Linked DNA regions of Homo sapiens: region 2 is linked to region 1. The links come from fine-mapping of genetic effects on gene expression. A gene starts in region 1. The other region holds a variant in brackets. All regions are shown on one strand. Distances are between the middles of the regions.

The links. PIP is the estimated chance that this variant, and not a neighbour inherited with it, causes the effect.
Region 2: its variant is fine-mapped to the expression of PKD2 in whole blood (INTERVAL, PIP 0.96).

Annotation. Positions count from the first base shown.
Region 1 is chr4:87,996,393-88,012,485 of GRCh38, reverse strand. It overlaps PKD2 (polycystin 2, transient receptor potential cation channel), which reads right to left and starts at 4,851. Exons shown (of 15, transcript NM_000297.4): 1 at 4,158-4,851. The coding sequence starts at 4,752. It also overlaps the pseudogene RNU1-36P. RefSeq lists silencers at 3,969-4,108, 4,159-5,088.
Region 2 is chr4:88,051,365-88,059,364 of GRCh38, reverse strand. It overlaps PKD2 (polycystin 2, transient receptor potential cation channel), which reads right to left. Exons shown (of 15, transcript NM_000297.4): 7 at 7,207-7,374; 8 at 3,098-3,279; 9 at 1,262-1,382. Among named protein-coding and RNA genes, the nearest start is that of PKD2, 48 kb to the right of the region's middle. The variant G/A (reference allele first, on the strand shown) is at 4,420.

The sequences.
Region 1 (16,093 bases):
ACTGTGTTGGTATGATTATCCTGCATGTCCTAATAAATAAATGTTCATAAACTGAAGAGATGCAGACAATTGCTGGCTAAAGTTAGGTTTGGGCACTACTGGCATATAGCACAGTGGATGAGAAACACTTTGAACACAAAGTGCCTGGAATTAAATCCTGACTGCAACATCTAATAGTTGCGGCCCTGGGCAAGTCATTTAACCTTTAGAAGGCTTAGTGCCCTCAACAGTAAAGTGGTGACGGATGAGAGTTCTTTCTTCACAGGTTGTTGTGAGGATAAAAACAAAACTATGAATATAAGGAGTTTAACACAGTGCCTGGCACACTGTGAGCAATAAACCATTATTTCCTTTTGAATTTAACAGTCTAGGGCAGGGTTTCTCAAAGTCCTCACTCCTGGCAATTTGGGTGGGAGAATGCTTTGTAGTGTGTGTGTGTGGGGTGGCTGTACTGTGCATTGTAGATTAGCAGCATCCTTAACCTCAACCCAGGAGATGCCAGGGGCATCCCCCCAGGTATGACAATCAAAAATGTCTCCAGAGATTGCCAAATGTCCCCTGAGGGGCAAAACTGCCCCTCCCCCCCCCCCCCATTGAAAACCTGTAATTTAGGATAAAGCTCTGCTCGTGATGACATAAGACTAAGTTCTGAAGCCTCAAGACAGGCTAAATTCATCAGTCACTGTGCATAGACTATCATGAACAGCAACTAAGAGCGGTGAGTTGGATGTTTGCAGTTTCTGTGTGGTAGCATCAACCAAAGCCATGTTCAAATCTTTTTTTAAGTCTCAATAACCTTTCCAATAACTAATTATGCTTCCCTTTAGACATCGAAAGGGAAGGCAGAAAAAATAAAAATTACATAAAGTATGGCAAAATGAAATAACTGCATTGGAGGTCACTTATTAAATACAATCAGCACACCAATTTCAATGTCAAGATCCAATTATTTTAGGAGAAATAAGAGTCGACTTATTATTTCATTCATTATTCCAGGTATTCAACCTGGAATACCCTCTCTAAAATGTTACACGAGCAAAAAATTAACTTCTTGTTCTTCAGGGTATTGAAGGGGAGGGAGGTATCTGTTTTAGCAGCTTAGCCCACCCTGACTTGCACAGCTAGTACTTCATAGTTTCTCTAGGAAAAAAAAAAAAAAGCCCAAGAATATACGCCTAAAATAACAAACAGGAACTGACTTTAACAGGTTGATACATTCAGAAAAACATTCAACTTCTGAAATTCAGAAAATTTTATGACTCAGAGTGCCATATTTTATCTTTGTACTAAAAAGAATTTGCTAAGAAAAGAATAAACAAATACTTGAGGATACTTTTAAATCTGGGCTTCATCTTTAAATCTTTCGGTCATCCTTGGCTTCCTTTGGTCCAGGCCCTCTTCACCTCCTTACTGGCTGCCTCCCACAGGTCTTCTTGCCTCCTTTCTCTCTGCCAAGCTCTCCTGTACACCATGCTGCTGACACAATTTCCTTTCAGCATGTTCTGTTCCTGCTCAGAAACTTTCAACTCCTTCCTAATATTTAGGGCTACATTCTCAATTCCTTGATTAGATACAATGCATACAGCAAACAGGCCTCAACAGGCCTCAAACATGTCTTCTTTCTTTACTATTTTACTTCTGCTAAGAAGATAGATCTATTTACTGTAGAAGGAGCAAAATCGACCATTTGTTGTCCATCTTGGATTCATGTCATTAAACAACAGACCAGAGCATGGTGAAGCTAGAAAGGACCTTGGAAGCTAGGTTCAATTCTTCCATTTTATAAATGAGGAGCTCAGGCTCAGGTAGTTTGAGGGAGCTATACAAAGTCACAAAGGCAAGAGACTTCCAGGGAAACTCCTGACCACTCCAAACTTCAGTCATTTCTCCCACCTTTAAAAATTGCAAGTTACTTTCTGTTCTGATCCTAGGGCACTGCTTACATAGTGCATATAAGATTTCTGTCATCAGTATCCAAAGGGGGCAGGGGGAATCTCAACCCATTCATGGCTATTTATTTTACATTTCTGGGTTTTTGTCCATAGGAAAACAGTGATATGCTATTCTAGTTTATTCATAGCAGCTAGCACAGTGCTATCTTCACAGTAGGTGCTAAACATTTTAAAATGTTGCTTATTTAATAAGTGACAAGAATATCAATTATATTTCTTCATAAAAGAAAGGAATAACAATTTATTTAAACATTTTATATAATTAAAACTTTTCAGCTAGGAGCAGCAGCTTGCACCTGTAATCCCAACTACTTGGGAAGCTGAGGTGGGAGGGCAGCTTGAGCCCAGGAGTTTGAGGCCGCAGTGAGCTACGTTTGCTTCCCCGCACTCCAGCCTCAGTGACAGAGTGAAACCCCGACTCTTAAAAAAAAAAAAAAAATTCCCGATTCCTGAGTCTGCTCTCCTACAAATCAGACCATTGACACACTTTGGCTAGAGGTTTTATGACTATGAGCTTATTCATTTTGTTTCCTGAAATTTTCCTTTAAAAGAAATAAATTTACATACATACTCATATGAAATATATATTTTATTTCTCTATATTCTGTTATTGAGTTTATTCAAACAAGGTTAGGGGTGTTATCAAATGCTTAAACTGAGTTAAAAGGATCATGCAACTTACCATTATTTATTAACTTAAAAGGAACTTCTCTCTCACTTCAGTGAATATTTTTTAAATGCACATTTTAAATGGTGTAAAATAACATAATTAATCCAGTTTTGAATCTTAAAAAGTGTTAGTGTTTTATTAATTTACTCACACAGGTTATCCGAAAAGGATCTTCTGTTCCCCATCATGCTTTTAATAAAATTAACTAGTATAAGAATCTCCATAAACGAAGTACCAAAATGTTTACATTTATATTTCTGAAGCGCTAATAACATGACAAATACATGCTGCACATTTTATGTCTTAACTCACTTAATTCTCCCAAAGAGTCAAGTCCTAAGCGTTATGATCATCTCTTTAAAAAAAAAAAAAATCCAAAAATTGGGTATCAGAGAGGATAAGTAACTTGCTCAAGGTCGTACAGCTAATGAGTGGTGGAACTGGGATTTCAGTGTAGGCCTGACCTGGTTTTAATCACACTGCTGTAACAACACCTGGATTGTTTTTGTGCAAGACTTTCAAAACTGACAGAAGGAGAAGAACAAGAAAAACTCAACTGAGAATGGAAACTCTTAAAAATATAGATTAAAATAATTTGGAGGGTAAAAGCAAATGAAATACTTTCCCAAGGATACCTCTGACAAAATTTGTAAAAAGAGAATTTCCTCTGGTACTAGAAAATTCATGTCCTCTTACTGGGCACTGGCAAATTTGAAAATTCCTCTTCTGCCTTTTGTAGAGCTGGGCGCACTGGGCTCAGACACATTTATCAGCTGCTATCTGGTGACTTCATCATTTTGGTGGAATTTCAAAGAACATTAATTTAGTTATTTAAAAACATACTTCAAATTTTTTTAAAACAATGTAATCTTTCCTTTGCAACTGTTTTTAGAAAAATGTCTAGAATTAGAAACGGCCAAATAACTTCACGATATTATTTTATTCTATTTGTGGTGTTCTTAACAGCTCCCACTCCTCAAAACAACCACACACATCACCAAAAAAATGCACCAATGACAATCTGCCACACTCCTCCCACAACTTGACATTATATGCACTGTACTGCTACCCTTTTCAGCCCGGGACAATGGAGTGTCCAGGCAAGAAGGAAACCACGGGTGACTATAACATTTTCCTTTAGATTTTGTGACATTGGCAAATATGCAGTTGCAACTACCATCAGTTACACAAGTAATGTTCATTTTTTCCTCTACAAGAAAAAAAAAAACAAAACCCAGATGTACTCTTTCACTCTAATTAGGCTTTCACTAATTTTCAGTAAAAAAGACTATGGTGACATATCCTGAAGAAGGAGGTATCCAATAAATATGCACCAACAAAAGAGCAGTGGAATTCCGCGCTGGGTACCGGAAATAGGGCAGCACTAGCGGAGGTGGGGAATGCGCTTCCAAGGGAGGCGGAACGCAGAGGGGATGCGAGATGGAGCCCGGGGAGCTGCCGCAGCGGGCGATGGCCCCGGCCGGCGCCGGCCGTTCTGGTTCGTGCATCTGCCGCTGCGGGTCGCGCGCTCTTACCTCGCAGCCCGCGAACCAGCCTCTCCGCCCAGGCCACTCGGGGCGGCTGCCCTTCCAGGGGGAGGTGGCGATGCAGCGGGTCCCCGCCGCCGACTGGGCTGGGGCACGGCGGGCCCTGGTCCTCTCGCCGGCGCCGCCTCCCGCTCGGGTGGCCCGCGCCGTGGTAGCCCCCAAGCCCCCGGCTCCGCGCGCCCACGGAGCTCACGGCCGAGGAGGCGGCCGACCTCCGGCTGCCCGGGCGCCACTCTACGTCCATCTCCACCACCATTCCGCCTTCTTCCCCTTCCACCTCCTCCTCCTCCTCCTCGGCCTCGAAGCCGGGGTTATCGCGGCTCCACGCCTGCCGGGAGCACGACGAGAGCGGAGGAGAAGGGGAGGCCGCGGCTCCGGCCGGGGGGTCCCGCGCGGCCGCCTGCCGGATGCGCTGCATCTCGATCTCCAGGCCCCGCTGCTCGCAGAGGCCGCCCGGGGCGGCGAGGCTGGCGCCCACGGCCGCGCAGCCAGCCATCAGCCGGCCCGGGTCCGGCGCGCGGGGCGCGGGCGGCCGCTTGGCGTCCCCGGGCTGCTGAGGCTGCACGCGACTGGAGTTCACCATCGCGGTCACTGGCGTCCGGCGCGCGGGTGCGCGGCGCCGCGCTCGGCGCTGTGCGCCTCAGGAGCCATGTTCCTTTCTTCCCGGCGCCCGCCGCCGCCTGCTCCCCGCCCCCGACCTCCCCGCGGTCCCGCGTCCTCTCGCCCGCCCCTTTGGCCCGCCTCCCTCTGGCCTCGCCCCGCCTCGCCCATCCGCCGCGGCGCGCTGAGCGGGGAGGTGCGAGGGAGCCGCCCCCGCGGTCTGCGCGCTCGCCCGGCGGCTCCCGAGTCCGCGTTCCAAGTGGAACCGGAGCCCGGGCGCGGGCGCCCACGTTCCATTCCCGGGAAGGCCTGGGAAGGGAGGGAATCGCTCACCCGCCAGCCCGCCTGCAGGGAAAGGGCTCCTGGAGCTGTCGATGCCTGCCCGACGCTGAGATAACTCTTGGGTCCCAGTTATCCACCAGCCACTTCTGCCTCGATTCACCAAAGGGCAGGGAAAGAACCTTTTGGTGAGATGGTGTGAATTAGCGACATCCAGCCTGAGCTGAAGTCTCCAGCGGGTCAAAGAAATCTTTCCATTTGCAAACTACCAAGGCTGACTTGCTGTGCATTTGGCGGGCCTCCTGCCCCTGATTCTGCTGGTTTGGAGATGCTTTCTCGCTCTTTGGTTGGCTTCTGTCTCCACACATTGTGGGGATCCCAGGGATTCGTCATAGGACTCTCGGATCGCTGGTGCCTCCACTGTGATCTCCGGTCTCCCTGCGGCCAGCACTGACTTCTAGCAACAGAATCCTGCATGAGGGCCTAGGCACAGAACTTTATTTCCACTCTTCTGAACACATCTAATGTGATGCTCTGCAATTGTCTGAAATTTATCCTACCCTAAGTCATTATCTTGTCCCCTTCTCTGGAACCTGCTTCACTTCCCGTATCCCAAGGTGAGGTTTGGGGCTTCGCTGTCCTCCTCACTTCCCAGGCCACTCTTCTTCATGGAAGCCTCGCGGTTTACCCTCCACCGCCTACACCTTATCTTCTTGTTACTTTTGCCCCACAGATATCACCCTGATATGATCTCTGTTTCTCACTCCTGCTGGCTTGATCTTATGTCTTGCATTATTCCGCATTAGAACAATTGATCCCTGTCAACTCCCATCTCTATTCTCCACGTCGGTGTCCTCACTATTTCCAGGTTATATTGCAGAACCAAAGCTGCTTATTTGTCACGTTGATGCTTAGACACCTCTGTGGGCTTCTGGCAGCTGAAAGGATAAAATTTAATTTCTGTGGTTTGGTTTAGTAAATTCTCATAATCTGCTCCTGTATTTGTTTGTTAGGGCTGCCATAACAAAGTACCAGAGACTGGGTGGCTTAACAGAAATTTATTTGCTCACCTTGTCTCTACAAAAAATACAAAAATTAGCCAGGCTTTGCGGTGTGTGCCTTTGGTCCCAGCTATTAGGGACGCTGAGGTGGGAGGATCGCTTGAGCCCGGGAGGCAGAGGATGTAGTGAGCCAAGATCGGGCCACTGCACTCCAAGTGACAGAGTGAGACTCTGTCTCATAAAGAAAGAAAGAGAGAGAGAGAAGAAAGAAAAAAAGAAGGAAGGAAGGAAAAAGAAAAGAAAAATTGTATTTTCTCACGAGGTGTTGGCAGAGTTGGTTTCTTCTGAGGCCTCTCTCCTTGGCTTGCAGATGGCCCCGCTTTTGTGTCCTCACGCCGTCTTCCCTCTTCCCTCTGTATGCGTCTGTGTCCTAATTGTCTATTCTTATACATCATATTGGATTAGGGCCTACCCTCATGACCTTGTTTTCACTTCATTACTTCTGTAAAGACCCTGTCTCCAAGTATGGTCATGTTCTGAGGTAATGGGGGTTAGGACTTCAACACAGAAATTTTTGGGGGGACACAATTTAGCTTTAACAGCTCTTAATGTACTCCTCTAGCATGGCATCCCATGCCATCCATCCACCTTAATGAATTATTCATTTGTTCTCTAGGCACATATAACATGCTGCTAATATTTAGGTAATTATGGCTACCTATTACCTGATCCTGCAGTTTATTAATTTAGATATTCATGTTCTTCTCTTAACTGTGAGCTTCTCAAAGGCAAGACTGGTGGGTCTGGAGCACAGCCCTAGCTCATGCTATTCATCAGTTCATTCTGAAGACATTTCCTGTGCCCTGAATTAAGGTCTGGGCATGTAGAGAGGAGTATGATACAGCCTTGGCCCTCAAGAGGAGACAGACCAAAAATGAGAGATTACCAAGTGGGTTAAGGGTTATGGTGCCTGTCATCCAAGGAACTTCTGAAGCTGAAGATGTCCTGAATAGCACCAGCAGCACTGCAGAGTCGAAGGATTCTTACAGACACATTCCAACAGAGGAGAGCCAGGCCTGGAAAGAGAATGCAGAATCTGAGCCAAAGGGTCCTCTGGAGAATAGGCCTAGTACAATGTTTTCAAATTGTGATCAGAAGATCTCCAGCATCACTTGCAGCTCTTGCTAAAAATATAGATACTGGGTCCACATTCCAACCTTATTGACTCAAAATCTTCCGGATTCCAGTCCTGAAATTCTGAATCTTCACAGGGGATTCTCAGGCATCCAAAGTTTGAGAAGCACCAATGTGTTCCAAATGGAAGAGGTTTCATAAATATTTCCCCCACATTTCTATACTTCACTGTTAGCACTAGTGAGACAATCATCTGGAATCCCAGACTTAGAAGAAAATTCAGTGGTCTTTGAGTCAGGTTACTCTATGCTTGTGCCTGCAGTCACTAATTCGTTGTAAGGACCCTGGAGCCAGACTGCCTGGATTCTGATTTACTCACTACTTCCTAGCTGTGTGACCTTGGGAAAGTCACTTTATCTCCTTGTACCACCAAAGATGAGGATAATGATAATGCCTACCTCATAGGGTTGTTGTGAGGATTAGGTGAATTAATACATGTGTTTTAGTCCATTCGGGCTGCTATAAAAAATATCATGTAGTGGGTGGCTTATAAACGATGAACCTTTATTTCTTACAGTTCTGGAAGCTGGACGGTCCAAGATCATGCTGCCAGCAGATTTGTGGTCTGGTGAGGGTCTACTTTCTGGTTCATAGACTGCACCTCCTAGCTGTGTCTTATGGTAGAAGGGGCAAAAGAGCTCCCTTGAGCTGCTTCTCTAAGGGCACTAATCCCATTTGTGAGGGCTCCAGCCCCATGATGTAATCACCTCTCAGAGGCCCCAGCTCCTTATACCATCACTTTGAAGGTTAGGATTTCAATGTATGAATTATGGGGGGGGAACACAAACACCCAGACCATAGCATGTGGAACACCGTCTGACATGTACGTGCTAATAGTGTTAGAAGTAGTCTTTGCTCTTATATCTTAATTATGATAACTGTTTTCATCTATGATAATTGCTTTTGTGGATGTCTTTGTTAGTGTTAGAAGTGGTCTTAGCTCTTATATCTTAATTATGATAACTATTTTCATCTATTATAATTGCTTTTGTGGATGTCTTTGTTCCAGCTAGGCTGTGAGTTTCTGGAGGGCTCCATGCCAATCCTAGAGGCTTCTATAACAAATACTTACTAAACACCTACTATATGCCAGGCACAATACTAGGAGAGACGGCAATTCATTAAATAGGGGAAAAGCCTAGCTCTCATAGAGGTGAGCTTATATTTTACAGGGTTTGAGGGGATTTAGAAGAGAGATTGCCCAGGCTGGCATGGGTAGGGAAGGTAGGTAGGGCCAGATCATAGGAAGCCTCAGATGTGTGTTAAGGAGTACAGACTCTCTATAGTTAATGATAACATAAATAGGCCTTTTTTTTTTCTTTCTAGAGTGTCAGTTCCTATTTAAAACAAAATCTGAAATCTTCCTGAAACTATATCCTCACCCTTAAAAGAATTCAAATTGATTGGAAATGTGTCTGCACATACATAATTCAGAGTTATATGTGTGCTTACCCAAAATTTTCTTTACAAATTATTGCAAGAAATGTAATCATTAAAAATTCGCAGCAATTTTTGTGTAATACCACTTAAATAGCATTTGGTCCATTGCACCCTAAATCTTACATTTTGGAGTTTCAATATTAATTTCAATCTTAATTTTCATAAACCCAACACCAGCCATCTAATATATTTCCTGTTCAAATACTTATTCATTCCTTCTGGCTTACTAAGGTTCCCTTTTGTGCTTTTATGTTAATTTGTTTCTCCCCTTTAGAGTGCCCAGCTTTTGCTCAAGCAGGCCCTGAGGCTGTAAATTTCTCTCCCTACCCACGGAATTCCTTCCTTTAATACCCATCTGAAGACCTTACTTCTAATAAGAAATTTTCCATTATTAAATAAGTGACGTGCACAAAGTTTTTTTCATCTCATTTCCACAATCCTGTTGTCACATTACAAATTTCCATCATCTGTAGCATCTGGAAATACCGAGTGGGATAGATAACATGGCCTGGCTGCTGTTTGTTTTTTTTTTCATCAGTGTGCTAGATCTTCCTGGACACGCTGCACAAATCTCACCTCAGTCTTAGTGCCACCGTGGACGCTGGAAGGAGCCATTTTAAAAGGCAACCTTAAACAGTTCAGTCTAATTTAATATTAGTGGCCTCCACACCTCTGACTCTTGTATTATTAGAATTGCCTGTTTGGCTTTTATTTTCCAGTGTGAACTGATGAAACAGACACAAAGTGAAGTACCCGTTGGTTTCGCGGTCTCCACCTCGAGAGGAAATCCAAAAGGAGTTTCTGGCATGTGTGGTGTTGCTTAGCAATTTACCCAAACAAACATGTTTCCTCCTCATTTTTTTCCCCAGTACTTATTTACTCAAGAACATTGTAAAATCAATTTTTACCACTTGACATCTGAAATCATTAGAAGAAAATCTGGTGTTTTGGGCTTTATGAGAAGAACTGCTAACCACAGTAAGACTTTGACTTTACTTTGTTTGTCATTTTGCTGCTTTAATAACATAAAGCTAGGATTTGTGGCCTTCTTCATGATAGATTTGGTTTGGATTGGCCTGCATACATCCCTGTCTCTGTGGGGTTATCTTGGCACCATAATTGGCTGGCACCGTGATCTTGATGACCTAATCTCTCTATCTCAATTTCCTTCTCTGGATAATGAGGTTAAATACCCATCTTATAAATCCCCCACAGAATTTTTGTTGAGGACTAATGAAGGAATATTAATAAGTTTATAAAACATGTATTGAGTGTCCGCTACATGCCAGTCACTGTGTTGCATTCCAGAGTGACAAAGATAAGACATGATTCCTACCTTCAATGAGATCAAATCTTATAGTTAAACTGCCTGGAAACATCCATAGATCATTCTCAACTTCTCTACCCATAAAAACTTAGGAATTTTTCTAGACTCAGACTTCATCTCTCCCTGGAACCTTCCATAGACACAATCTTGGCCCCCAGCATGAATTGACATGCCTCTCTACCCTGTAAACCTTTATTCCAACATTTGCCACCTTATACTGAAAATATCTGTTCACATAGACGTCTTCGTGAGTGGCACATAAGCTCCTGGAGAGCAGGGACCCTGGCTTATTAGCAGCTCAGCAGCCAGTCTGTTTTCTAGTGCAAGTTTTCTTGGGGACACCCCCACCTACCCACCCCTGCTGCCATTCTTAGCCTATATGTGTCTCAGGTGTGGCAGACACCACTGCTAGCTCCCAAGTGGTGATTGTGGAGCTCAGGCTTGCCCAATCAGCATCACGTCTCCTTGGCCCCTGTGAATGGTATTTCACAAGTATGTTATCCTGTTGTGTTAAAAAAAAAAATTAGGCCAGAAATTTTTTTCCAGTTGTTGGAAAAGAAAAGCTTTTCTTCCCACCAGATTTAGAGTTTTAAAGATGTAAGTCCAGACAAGCTGGCAGCCAAAATGTTGATGCTCAGGGGAAAAATGGCGCCAACAATGGAGATACAAAAAATATTTATAATGTGGATACTGGAAGAATACTAAAATTGAACTAATGTTTGGGTGGCCATGCTATTCAAGAACATTATGAAATACATTTTTATTGTGTGCCATCTCCTGGTTTTGTCAGATGCAGATTATGATATTTATTATCTATATTTTTATCCAAGTTCAAAAGAATTTTGAACAAATTGGGGCCAAGAACAGAGTTCTTTGAAATACTGTGTGCAGCTCTTCTCTTCATCAACTCTAGTTTATTCACTAGTACTGTTTGGGTATAGTTGTATTTTAAAAAAACTTTAAATCCAATTTTCACTAGCCCAGATTTTTCCAAAGCTTATCACAATTTTTTTTCAAATACCTTTTGATGCCAACATGAATGAGGCTTCCAGCATTCCCAGATCTACCAGACTTTGCAGAGTACCTGTTTTATGTCCCCTTCGTACAATCTTAGATATGATTAGGATGCTAAAGAAGTTGTTTATGCCTGCAAGAAGCTTGTAACTAGCTTGCTATACATGGATAAAACATTTAACCAATAAGAGCTTTATGACATTCTTCTGGGAAGTTTTTTTTGTTTTGTTTTATTTTAAATAAAGATTCTGGAGTCTAACTTCTAGGGATTCTGATTCATTATGTCTCAGCTAGGTCCTAGGAATCTGTATTTTAAGAGAGTAGATCAAAGAGACAGAGAAAGACTAGGTTCTCAGGACATCATTTGAACCCCTGAGTTAGAACTAATTGAAGCTAGATCCACCCCTGGACTCCATGAGCCAAAAAATATCCTTTTAAAAAATTAAAAAAATTATTTCAACTTTACCCTTGCCCCTTTCCCTCCCTCCCTCCTCTTGTATTCCCCACTGTCTATTGTTGCCATCTTTATCCATGGGCACCCAAAGGTTAGCTCCCACTTATAAGTGAGAACATGTGGTATTTGGCTTTCAGTTACTATGTTAATTTGTTTAGGTTAATGGCCTCCAGCTGCATCCATGTTGCTGCACAGGACATGATTTTATTCTTTTTCATAGCTTCATAGTATTTCATAGTGTATAGTACCATGTTTTAAAAAATCCAATCCATCATTGATGGGCACCTAGATTGACTCTATGTCTTTGCTATTATGAATAGTGCTGCAATGAATATACAGGTACACATGTCTTTGTAATATTATTTACAGCATTCCCATCAGCAATAAATAAGAGTTCTTTTTCCACATCCTCAACAGCAGTAGCATTATCAGTGTTTTGGATTTTGGCCATTCAAATGGGCGGGCAATTGGATCTCGTTGTTTTAATTTGCAATTCCTTATTGACATATATGTGGAGCATCTTTTCATATGCTCAGTTGCCATCTGTATATCTTCTTTGGTAAGGTGTCTGTTCAGGTTGTTGGCTCATTTTTTCCTTTTATTTACTGGGGAAAAGCATGAATGCAGTATGCTGCTACCACAAATTACGCAGTTGAGTTTCCCACATTTGGAGAAATCACAGGGATCAGCAAGTCTTCAGTGGAATAGAGAAGCCTTGCCCTAGGGAAAACTACCCTTGTGGTCATGGTATCTACCCTGCCTGGTAAGTCTTTTGGGCCTATTTTTCAATCGGGTGGCTTATTTTCTTGTTGAACTTTAAGGGTTCTTTGTATATTTTGAATCACAATCCTTTATCAGATAGGTCTTTTGCAAATATTTTCTTTCAGTCTGTGGCTTATCTTCAATTTTTTTTTTTTTTTTGAAATTTTATATTAAGATAACTTTTTATTCAATAGATCAATAACATTCAGTGTTAATAAATATAGGCAATAGGTATTCTCATCTATGTGCTTTTGGTGAGATTATAATAATGTAGTGAAGGCTTTTCGGAAGATAGTTGGGCAGCATATATTACTATTTAAAAAGTGCATTCCATTTGATCCAACAATTCTAGTTCTTAGTTTCTGTGGTAAGACAACAGTCCTATGTATACAAAGGGTATATGCTGGGGGCACGTTATACATAGGGTAGGACTGGAGGACTAAGGCAAAGAAACATATTCTCTGTTGGCTTCTGTACACTTTATATTACTTAAGTAATTATTTTAAGTGCCCAAGAATTTGAAAGTAAGGTGGGTCTAGAAGTCTGTCATAGGTTTCATCAACAAAATTAAGCCTTGTCTACTTTTTTTTTTATTTTTATTTTTAATTTTTTTTTAATTTATCAACTTTTTTCAGTAGCTGATATAGTTTAGCTCTGTGTCTCCACTCAAATCTTATCTCCAGTTGTAATCCCCACATGTCAAGGGAGGGAGGTGATTGAATTATGAAGGCAGTTTCCCCCATGCTGTTCTCGTGATAGTGAGTGAATTCTCATGAGATCTGATGGTTTTATGAATGGCAGTTTTTCCTGCATCCTCACTTCTCTCTCCTGCCACCAGGTGAAGAAGGTCCTTGCTTCCCCTTCTCCTTCCGCCATGATTGTAAGTTTCCTGAGGCCTCCCCAGCCATGTAGAACTGTGAGTCAATTAAACCTTTTTCCTTTATAAATTACCCAGTCTTGGATAGTAGCTTTATAGCAGTGTGAAAATGGACTAATACAGTAGCCTTTGACCTTTCTTCTTAAAGATAAGGATATTAGCAAATGTAAACTTTTTACCAACAAACACCTTTTAAAATAAATATCTTTTACATTTGCCAAAGTCTATAAACTTTCATTTTGTGGTACAACAGTAAATATAACTTATTTTATATATTTTAATTTTTCATTGTTCACTACCAGTACTTTTTTAAAAGTATATTATCTTTATAGATAGTCATTAACATATTGTTAAATTTATATTTTATAGAAGATAGTTCCTAGTATTGTTTAATTTGTAGAGATAAAAGAGAAAATATGCAGATCCAACTTCTAAGAGCATTCAATATTATACACCAAGCTTATTCCTGAAAACAATGACCCAGAAAACCACATGAAAGAGTTTTATTATGGATATCCTAAAACAAGTAACTATAAGTTTCAGATATATATAGAATATTCCACAGTTCCTATAATAAAAATTCATGAGTTTTCTGATCACCTTCAATGTTTGTACTGAGTTAACACACCGCTGTTACATTAAAGCAAACCATTAAAAATAAAGCTAGTTTTCTCTCTTTTTTTCAACTTTTATTTTAGACTCAGAGGTATATGTGCAGGTTTGTTACCTGGGTATATTGTGTGATGCTGAGATTTGGGGTATGAAAGATCATGTCATCCAGGTACTGAGCATAGTACCCAATAGTTAGTTACTACCAGTACTTTACTAACATGAATTTTTCTTCCTTGAATTTTTTTCTCTTTATTTAAACCTTCTGGAGTAGATTTTTTATTAGGTGTTTTTTTTTTGGTTTGTTTTCAAAGAACAACCCATTAATGCTTCATTATTCCCCAAAACTGTTTAAAATTAAGAAGGCCTTTCTGTTACCATAGACATAAAACGAATGGATTGGGCATTATATTTTTCAGTTTAATCTTTTCTCCTCCTCTTTAGGATTTTCTAAATATTCCTCCACTTTCCTCTGCCATTAAATGTTGTTATGGGAAAAGTAGGAGGTCAGATTAAACCCATTGTTTTTCTCTCAGGCTGAGTAGATGAGTATTTTATTATGATTATTATTTGGCCCAAAAGTTATGTCTGTTTAGTGAAATTATTATTATTACTATTGTTATTGTTATCCTGCTCTCAGATACATCTTTCTGTTGATTATTCAGCATAATTATTTACCTAGGAGATATTGTGCATGTTTAATCAGCAAATTCAAATTTTTACTTATTTTAACAAGGTTTTCTTCTTTTATAATTTCAAATAATCTGCTGTTTCATTAATTCTGTAAATTTAGCAATACCTATTACGCATATGTTGAGCTACTGTGTCATGTTTCTGTATTATCTCCTTTCTAATTTCTCTTTCTGTCATTTTCTATTTTTATTTTTAATAGGATTTTTATAAATCTTGACCTTCATATTATTGTACCATTCATGATTTTGTGGTTTTAAAGGTGGCTTTTCTTTTCCTAATTATTTATTGAAAATCTTTAATTCCTCCTGTGAATTCTGCCAGCTCACTTTTCATTTTTCCATGGTCATGTATTTTATTTTATATTTTTCATTCTTTTTTAAAGTTAAAATTATTTTTAAAGGATTTCTGTTCCTGGCTCTGATGGAGCAACACGGACAGATTTACCCTCTTACTTAAACAAAATACAGACAAAATTTATAAAGGATGGTTCTGAAACATGGGACAACAGGCAGTATAAACAGTAATTTTTCAAAGAAGATAAAAAAAGGAAGTAAACCCTATGGTTTCTCTACTGATTCCCTAGAAAGAGATTTCAAGCTATCAGTCTCACTCAATTGAGAAGACAGAGTTCATTGAGAATTTGGGGAAAGTCAAAGTGGACAGAATTCACAAAGAACTAAAAAAAAGAGTATTGTGCAGAGAAAGAGCTCCAGCTACCTCCACAGAGTTTCCCTTGAGTTTTCAGATCATGCGTTTGGTGAACCCACCTGAGGCAAGGGAAAGAACTACCAGAAAGAAGCAGGTGGAAAAATTCCTGATGTTCACATAGACCGGGAAATTTCTCAAGTTTTTGTCATCTGAATTGAAGAAATCTTATACTGTATGAGGTGTTGAAGAGAATACTCAGAAGGACAATGCCTCCGTAGTAGGACCAAACTAGCCTAGAGTAAAGGCTGGTCTGTCTTGTATGACTCCTTGTGAAACTATTCTGCTGAGTATGTCACCAATTTTCTTAGCGAATCTAAGTGATTCCAAGTAATAAGTTGAAATTTTCACTATTTGTATGTTTTTATTGATTATTCATTGTGGTTCTAATAGTTTTTGGTTTATAATATTTTGTTGGTCTGTTATTTGCTGCATAGTGGTTTATGATAGTTATATCTTTATTGGATCTTTAACAATGTAGAATAAGTTCTTTGTTTCATTTCATGTTATTTGTTTCTAAATTTTACTTCTTATTTAACAGTAATGTTGCAAATCTTTAAAAATGTTTTACTTTATTTGTAAGGAAAACACCTAAAGCAAAGTGAAACAATAAGTGATGTAGGATCTATTATTATTATTTTCCATCATGTGAATCTTTGTCTTAACAGAGAGGCTTCGTCTATTTATATTTGTTGTTACAATTGATTTCTTTCATCATTCTGTTATTTCAGTGTTTCTCTTGAAAAATAGGTTCTTGTTATTCAATGATTTAGTTTTCACTTTATGTATCGTTTTCTTTATTTTGTCCTTCATATTTTGCAAGCTATATAGCCTCTGTTAAATTCCATTAATGGATATCTTTAAGCACTCTTTGACATGTAATTTTCTAATGTCTCAGTAAATAAAGAATTTGTCAACATAAAATGTGTGTGTAGGCCAGGTGCGGTGGCTCATGCCTGTAATCCCAGA
Region 2 (8,000 bases), 51 kb before region 1:
TGGTAGAGTAACAGAGGCTTATTCTTCTCTCCATTGTTTTAATATATGATAGGAAGAAGAAGCTTAAGAGGTGTAAGTTTAAAAATGAGCCATAAACCATGCATACAGCAAGATACATATGAACTTGAATGATATTCCTGACCTTTTCAGTCCTGTTAAAGTACAGCTAGGGAACACACCTTTGTTTTACACCAGAGGCTGTGTCTCCCCGGAAAAAAAATTTTTTTTAAACAGGAAATTAATACAGTACATCTAATACCCAATCAATAAATACCATATACTTAACCAGTAATACCTGGACTGACTTTAGAGTTATTACACTGAATTACTGAAAATGTGATCACTTAACCTTCCTCAAGGGATCTTTACACAATTTACTGAAATGGAAAAAATGTTATTTTCTTAAGAAAATTGTTCTTAAGATGACTGTTAGTGTTTAGATGAAAAATATTGCCTAAATTAAGCTGGCTTAACACCTTCTCAGTAGACAATTGAATATATAAATGTTAAGAAAAAGAACAAAACACCTTAAAAAAACTTAATTGACTTAGGGCAAAAACATTAAAAATGTTCATTTGTACCAAATCAAGAGAATAAAAAAATTATTTTTGAAAATAATTTTAATGCAATTTCCATTCATTGTTACATTTAGTTTTAAACTTAATTATTTGAATATTCTCTGTAGGCAGTCTCTAGATGAATGGGATATAAATAATTTAAAACAGAATATCCTAATTTTGACATGCAATGATTCACTCAACTATTACTCGACATCTTAGATCTAGCTTGCTTTTCCGTTCTTATTTTTTAAAAAGAAAAGAAGAAAGAGAGAAAAGTCATGCTAGCAAGTGACTACGAAAGTGCTGACATATGAGTTTAAAAAGCATGTAAGCATATTCTACTTTTTAGGCAAAGCACTATTTTAGGTATCTTTATAAATTTGTACTTGATCTAATTTCTTTTTTGCATGGAATAGATACATATATAGAGAGAGAAATGAAAGACCATGGAAGAGATCTAATTTTTTTTGCATTGAATAGACACATATACATGGATCAATGAAAGACCACAGAAAAGACATTTGATATGAGTCTCAAAACTGTGAATTAATAAAAGGAAAATAAGTTTTCCAACATCCACACTTTTTTCTACTTCCTGGGTCTTTATTTAAAATTGATAGGACATAAAGTGTGAGAGAAAAGAGAAGACAAGGATTTACGAAGTTTAAATTGAACCTCACTATAAATAAAAATGTACATACCAAAAGAATGAAGAACATAAAGAACACAAATGTAGTGAAATAAATTGGTCCCAAAACTCGATTAGCTTCCTCAATCTCTGCAAAGTTGATATCGCCCAAAATGATACGGAATTGAGTGAAGCTATAAAAATAAAACAAAACACCACAATACAAAAACAAAGAATGTCCACTAGTTGATGCAACATTTCTTAAAGATGATTTCATTATTTTTGGACCTTTTAGCAGTATAGGTAGCTGCCGAATAACAGAAAATTGTCAATCCCATTTACAAAGTCTTGCTACTTGTATCAGCAATTAAAGCCTTCTGCAATAATAATAAAATGCTTTCATGCTACAGAGGTTATTTCCATTTGGTTAAAAAGAAAACACAAGCTGGGCACGGTGGATCACGTCTGTAATCCCAGCACTTTGGGAGGCCGAGGCGGGCGGATCACGAGGTCAGGAGTTCGAGAACAGCCTGGCCAATATAGTGAAACCCCGTCTCTACTAAAAATACAAAAATTAGCTGGGCTTGGTGGCGTGCGCCCATAATCTCAGCTATTCGGGAGGCTGAGGCAGGAGAATCGCTTGAACCCGGGAGGCAGAGGTTGCAGTGAGCTGAGATTACACCGCTGCACTCTAGCTTGGGCGATGGAACGAGACTCCATCTCAAAAAAAAAAAAAAAAAGAAAATACAATTATTATTCAATAACTTATAAAGCAATTGGCTATAACATTTCAACACATAATCTAGGTAAAACATCTTAACCCTAAACCTTGACAACAGTCACCCTCGGTCTAAAGTTAAAAATTTCTTTAAAAAAAAAACAACAGGGCCTGGTGTGGTGGCTCATGCCTGTAATCCCAGTACTTTTGGAAGCTGAGGTGAGAGGACAGTGTGAGGCCCTGGAGTTCAATACCACCCTGGGCTACACAGTGAGATCCCTTCTCATAAAAAAAGTTAAAAATTGGCCAGGCATGGTGGCATACACTTGTAGTCCCAGCTACTCAGCAGGCTGAGGCAGCAGGATTGCTTGAGCCTAGGAGTTCAAGGCTGCAGTGAGCTATGATTGCACCACTGCACTCCAGCCTGGGCAACAGAGCAAGACCGTGCCTCAAAAACAAAACAAAACAAAAAAAAACAAAACAAAAAAACCCCAAAAACCCAAAATGGTTTGAGTTCAAAGATCCAATATTCTGACAAGTACTTAAAATGGGATCAAAGTGGCCAAGTGTTGTCAGTGCTGGGTCTTAGCAAAATCACTTTTATCAACAGCAATATTAATTCGAGATATCTATGCACAAAACCCTATTACTTCCATTCCTTTTTAAACTAACTCCTTTCTAAATGGCATAGAAATCTGACACTGGCTGCTTTTTGTTGTTTTATTTCACATTTGGGATCTTTGGAAAAAAAAACTGAAAATTCTTGTACTGGTCTGAGTTTACCTTAGAATATTAGAAATATCTTGTTTTTTTCCTTAGAAAATAACTTGAAGTTCTAAATATATGGCAACAATATTCAACAGGAGTAAGAATATAGGCAAACAGCCTTCTAGAAGCTACCATCTGCATTTGGTGCAAAGAAAAACTCAGTCTTCAGAACAGTGTTGGTTTCCTATGTCTGTTAACTGTATTTTACTACTTTGGGCTGCTATCTTAAGCATCAGCATTTCAGGATGCATTGTCTTCTTTGCATGGGTAGATCAATGTTTTGGGAAAAGGTAATTAATTCTTACTTAAAATAACTGGTTTTAAATAATTGGTGGTCATATAGCAACCTCATATGAAGATTTATTCTTGAGAAGCAGTGACAACTCTGATTAAATTTTTCTTCTTAATTTCATATATACTTACATACACTCTTGGAAAGTACTGAAGTCATCGACCTGAGTGCCAAAGACAAGGTATGCCAACTGAGCATACGCTAGGAAAATAATGAAGAACATAATAGCAAAGCCAAACAGGTCTTTGGCACATCGAGACATGGTTGTCGAGAGCTGGCTCATGGTCCTGTTAAAATTGATGAATTTGAAGAGCTGTAAGAGAGAGAAGACATCAATAGATGAATGGATAAACAAAATGGTGTGACTGTATATAATAAAACATTATTTCATCCTGAAAAGAAATTAAATTCTGACAGGTTACAACATGGATGAACCTTGAAAACATCATGCAAAGTGAAATAAGCCTGACACAAAAGGACAAATACTGTATGATTCCACTTAAATTAGGTACTTAGAATAGTCAAACTCACAGTGACAGAAAGTAGAATGGAGGTTACCAGGGACTGGGGGAATTGGGAGTTAGTGTTCAATGGATACAAAGTTTCAGTTTAGAATAATGAAAAAGTTCTGAAAATAATGCAGCATAATGGCGATGGCTGCACAACACTGTGAATGTACTTAATGCCACTGAATTGTACACTTAAGCATGGTTAAAACAGTAGGTTTTATGCTATCTACAATTAAAAAAAAAAAAAAAAAGGCTGAGTGCAGTGGCTCACATCTATAATCCCGGCACTTTGGAAGACTGAGGCAGGAGGATCGCTTGAGCCCATGAGTTTAAGATCAGCCTGGGCAATATGGCAAGATTCTGTTTCATTAGAAAATAAAAATAAATTAGTCAGGTGTGGTGGCACACACCTGTGGTTTCAGCTACTCAGGAGGCTGAGGTGGGAGGGTTGCTTGAGCCTGGGAGGTCGAGGCTGCCGTGAACTGTGACTAGTGATGCTTTCCCCCCAAAAAGGATTAAAGTAAAAGGGAGGGAAAAAACTTCACACAAATAAAAATTAATTATAAAACCCCCCAGGAAATTCTTGTTGCATAATATTAACTGTCATTTATTGTGCATCAGTTATATGTGGAGGGCTTTATGTACATTGCCTCAAATCTCTGCAATGTCTGAAATATTGGCATTCTATCCCCAGGAGTCAGCTGGGGCCTGCAGCCAGCTGCCCTGCCTGAACTGCAAAGCCTGCTCTGCCTGACTGCAAAGAAATATTGAGCATGTTGGTAGATAGTGAACCCTGCTGGTAGACAGTGAACCCTGCAAAGCCATATTGAGCATGTTGGTAGATAAGGCACTGAGGATGGCTGCCCAGATTGTGTAGCTCTAAGTAGAAGCCTCAGTGGAAGAGCACATGATGAGATATTAGAAGTAGAGTCATGAGGCCGGGC[G/A]TGGTGGCTCAAGCCTGTAATCCCAGCACTTTGGGAGGCCGAGGTGGGTGGATCACGAGGTCAGGAGATCGAGACCATCCTGGCTAACACGGTGAAACCCCGTCTCTACTAAAAATATAAAAAATTAGCCGGGCGTGGTGGCAGCCGCCTGTAGTCCCAGCTACTCGGGAGGCTGAGGCAGGAGAATGGCGTGAACCCAGGAGACGGAGGTTGCAGTGAGCTAAGATTGTGCCACTGCACTCCAGCCTGGGCGACAGAGCAAGACTCCGTCCCAAAAAAAAAAAAAAAAAAAAAAGTAGAGTCATGATCCCTGCCTTAAAGACCTTAATGATAAAGTATCGAGGGGCAAGACATTTCCAAGAGAAGCACTAAATAAAACACATCAGCCTGAGACACATGTTGTAGGAAAATCTCTAGAAGTTTAAAGGTCTGTTACACATTGTTACTGGCCACAGTGAAATATTTCTTGAGGATTGCTGTAATCACATTACTTAATCATTACTTAATACAATCCCAATTCATTTGAGATCTTTTTTTTTTTTTTTTGAGACGAAGTGCTGCTCTGTTGCCCAGGCTGGAGTGCAGTGGCATGATTCAGCTCACCGCAACCTCTGCTTCCTGGGTTCAAGCAATTCTCCTGCCTCAGATTCCCAAGTAGCTGGGATCATAGGCACGTGCCACCACACCCAGCTAATTTTTTTTTTTTGTATTTTTAGTAGGGACAGGGTTTCACCATGTTGGCCAGGCTGGTCTCAAACCCGACGTCAGGTGATCTGCCCGCCTCAGCCTCCCAAAGTGCGTGAGCCACTGTGCCCAGCTGAGATCTTGATTATTATTACTATCTTGATTATTATTACTATCTTGATTATTATTATTAAACTAATAATAATCAAGGAAACTTCAGTAATTCTCAGGCAGCACCTGCCATCCTTTCACCAGCACAGGCTCTGACTGTGCTATCCAAACATGTGTGGATATCTAAATTCAAATTTAAATTAAGTAAGATTAAATACAATTAAAAATTCAGTCCCTTGGTCCTACTAGCCACATGTTAAGTGTTCCATGCCTATACATGGTTAGTGGCTACTGTCTAGGACAATGAAAATATAGAACATTTCCATCACCACAGAACATTCTTATTACTATTATTATTTTTGCTGTTTGATTATTATTACTATGTTATGATCAAGGTTTTGTGCTTTAGTGATGGTTTCTCTTGAACAAGCATGTCAATAAATAAATAGCATGAGAAATACAGGATAAAGTCTATGCATTTTTTTTTTTTTTTTGAGACAGGGTCTCACTCTGTTGCCCAGGCTGGAGTGCAGCGGTGCGATCTTGGCTCACTGCACCCTCCGCCTTCTGGATTCAAGCAATCCTCCCGCCTAAGCCTCCTAAGTAGCTAGGACTACAGGCACGTGCCACCACCCCCAGCTAATTTTTGTATTTTTAGTAGAGATGAGGTTTTGCCATGTTGCCCAGGCTGGTATCAGACTCCTGGGCTCAGGGGACCTATCTCGGCCTCCCAAAATGCTGGAATTACAGGCATGAGCCACTGCGCCTGGTCCAAGTCTATGTCTTGTGATAAACCTCAGGTCTTCTAGGTATGAATACCAACTCAGAAAAGTACATAACGGGTAAGTACCTTCCAGAACAGTGCTTTTCAAGAGAACGTTCTGTGATGATGGAAATGTTCTACATTTCCACTGTCCTAGACAGTAGCCATTGAACACTTAATGTGTGGCCAGTAGGACCAAGGAACTGCGTTTTTAATTGTATTTAAGCTTAACTAATTTAAATTTGAATTTAAATAGGCACATGTGGCTAGTACTTACTGTCTGGACAGCACAATCAGAGCCTGTGCTGGTGACCGAATGGCAGCTGCTGCCTGAGAATTATTGAAATTTCCTGCATCTCCAGAATTGAGGCTTGTTGTATATGAAATGTCATAACCTTTCACACACATGGAAATGCACATTATATCTTGGGACAATAAGGAAAATAGTGAGCAAGGAACTATTTGGAAGCAGTGTCTGTTCCAACCTTAATTCTAGGTAAAGCTTCCCTTACAGCCTCTACCTGGAAAAGAGGCGATCCCTTCTAGCAAGCATTTCCAAGTGCAGCAACTCTCCCCTTCCCTCCACCTGCTCCTTCCCTCTCTTTCTCTAAGTTCCTTTTCCTTCACCTGTTCATCTCATCTGTTAGCAGCCTGGGGCCCCAGGCCCAGCTAACACACTGAAAGGCCTCTTACTGCATTTGTTAAACAAAACCTATAGGGACTGATCTTGCACTAATTCAGATAGCAGAAGTATGTCATTGACAGTGAGAGGAATGATCACATGAGTCTCAATAGTTTACTTTATATGTAAAATATGAGGCCTGGCACGGTGGCTCATGCCTGTAATCCCAGCACTTTGGGAGGCTGAGGTGGGAGGATTGCTTGAACCCAGGAGTTCAAAACCAGCCTGGGCAACATAATGAGACCTTGTCTCTACGAAAAAATTTAAAAATTAGCCGGGTATGGTGGCACATGCCTGTAGTCCCAGTGACTTCGGAGGATAAGGTGGGAGGATCGCTTGGGCCTGGGAAGTCGAGGCTGCAATGAGCTGTAATCATACCACTGCACTCCAGCCTGGGTGACAGAGTGAGACCCTGTCTCAAAGTAAATATTGAGCAGCTTTGGCTGGTCACTTGAATTTCAAATTCAAGTATTCCATGATTTTGTGGAACTCATTTTTTTTAAAGAAAATATTATTTAAAATGTAGAACATGAAATTTATAAATTACCTTAATCCAGACAAAAAATACTGTGACAGCAGCTATATTGTTGAACTGTATCTGCCAATATGCCAGATGCTCAAAGTTGGGGAAAGTATTTTGATCTTCCAGAAACTGTAGTAGCACCTCCACATTTGATGTTCTGTATATGTTAATTCCTATAGCTACCACTGACAGCTGAAAAGCAAAATATTTATATTTTATTACAGTGTTTTAGAAATATGAAACTTACCTTAATATGACTAGTATATTTTTCTTCACCAATGTATTAATTATAAGGGCTCACCATTATACTTACCCGATGTCATTCTTAAAAGTCACTCACTCAAATGGAAAGTGTTAAGCCCTGCCATAAAATAAGTAAAACAGTATATTGCTTGCATTTCCTTAGTTCGGAATAGAAACTCAACGAAGGCATGCATGCATGTGTGTGCACATATACATTACACACACATACATGCATACACAGAAGAGATCACACTATAACAGACTCAAACTCAAAGAGGAATGCTTTCTGTTTTTTCTGCCACCTTCATTTTAATCACTTTCCACCCTTTTGCTTTCTTGCCTTCATCCTGCTGTTTTTATTTGTGATTTTTAAATTTAAAATTTTTCGGTTTCTCTGCATTCTCCAATTGCCAGCCATTCTTTGCTCTGTTTAACAAAAATATAGTAGATGTCTATGTATACAGCACTGTGCAAGGGCTAAGAGGAATAAACAGAAGTAAACTGCATAAATCCTGCCCTCGAGACTCAAGAGCAGATAAACACATGAAGTTAAATAATACAAAAAACTACTAAAG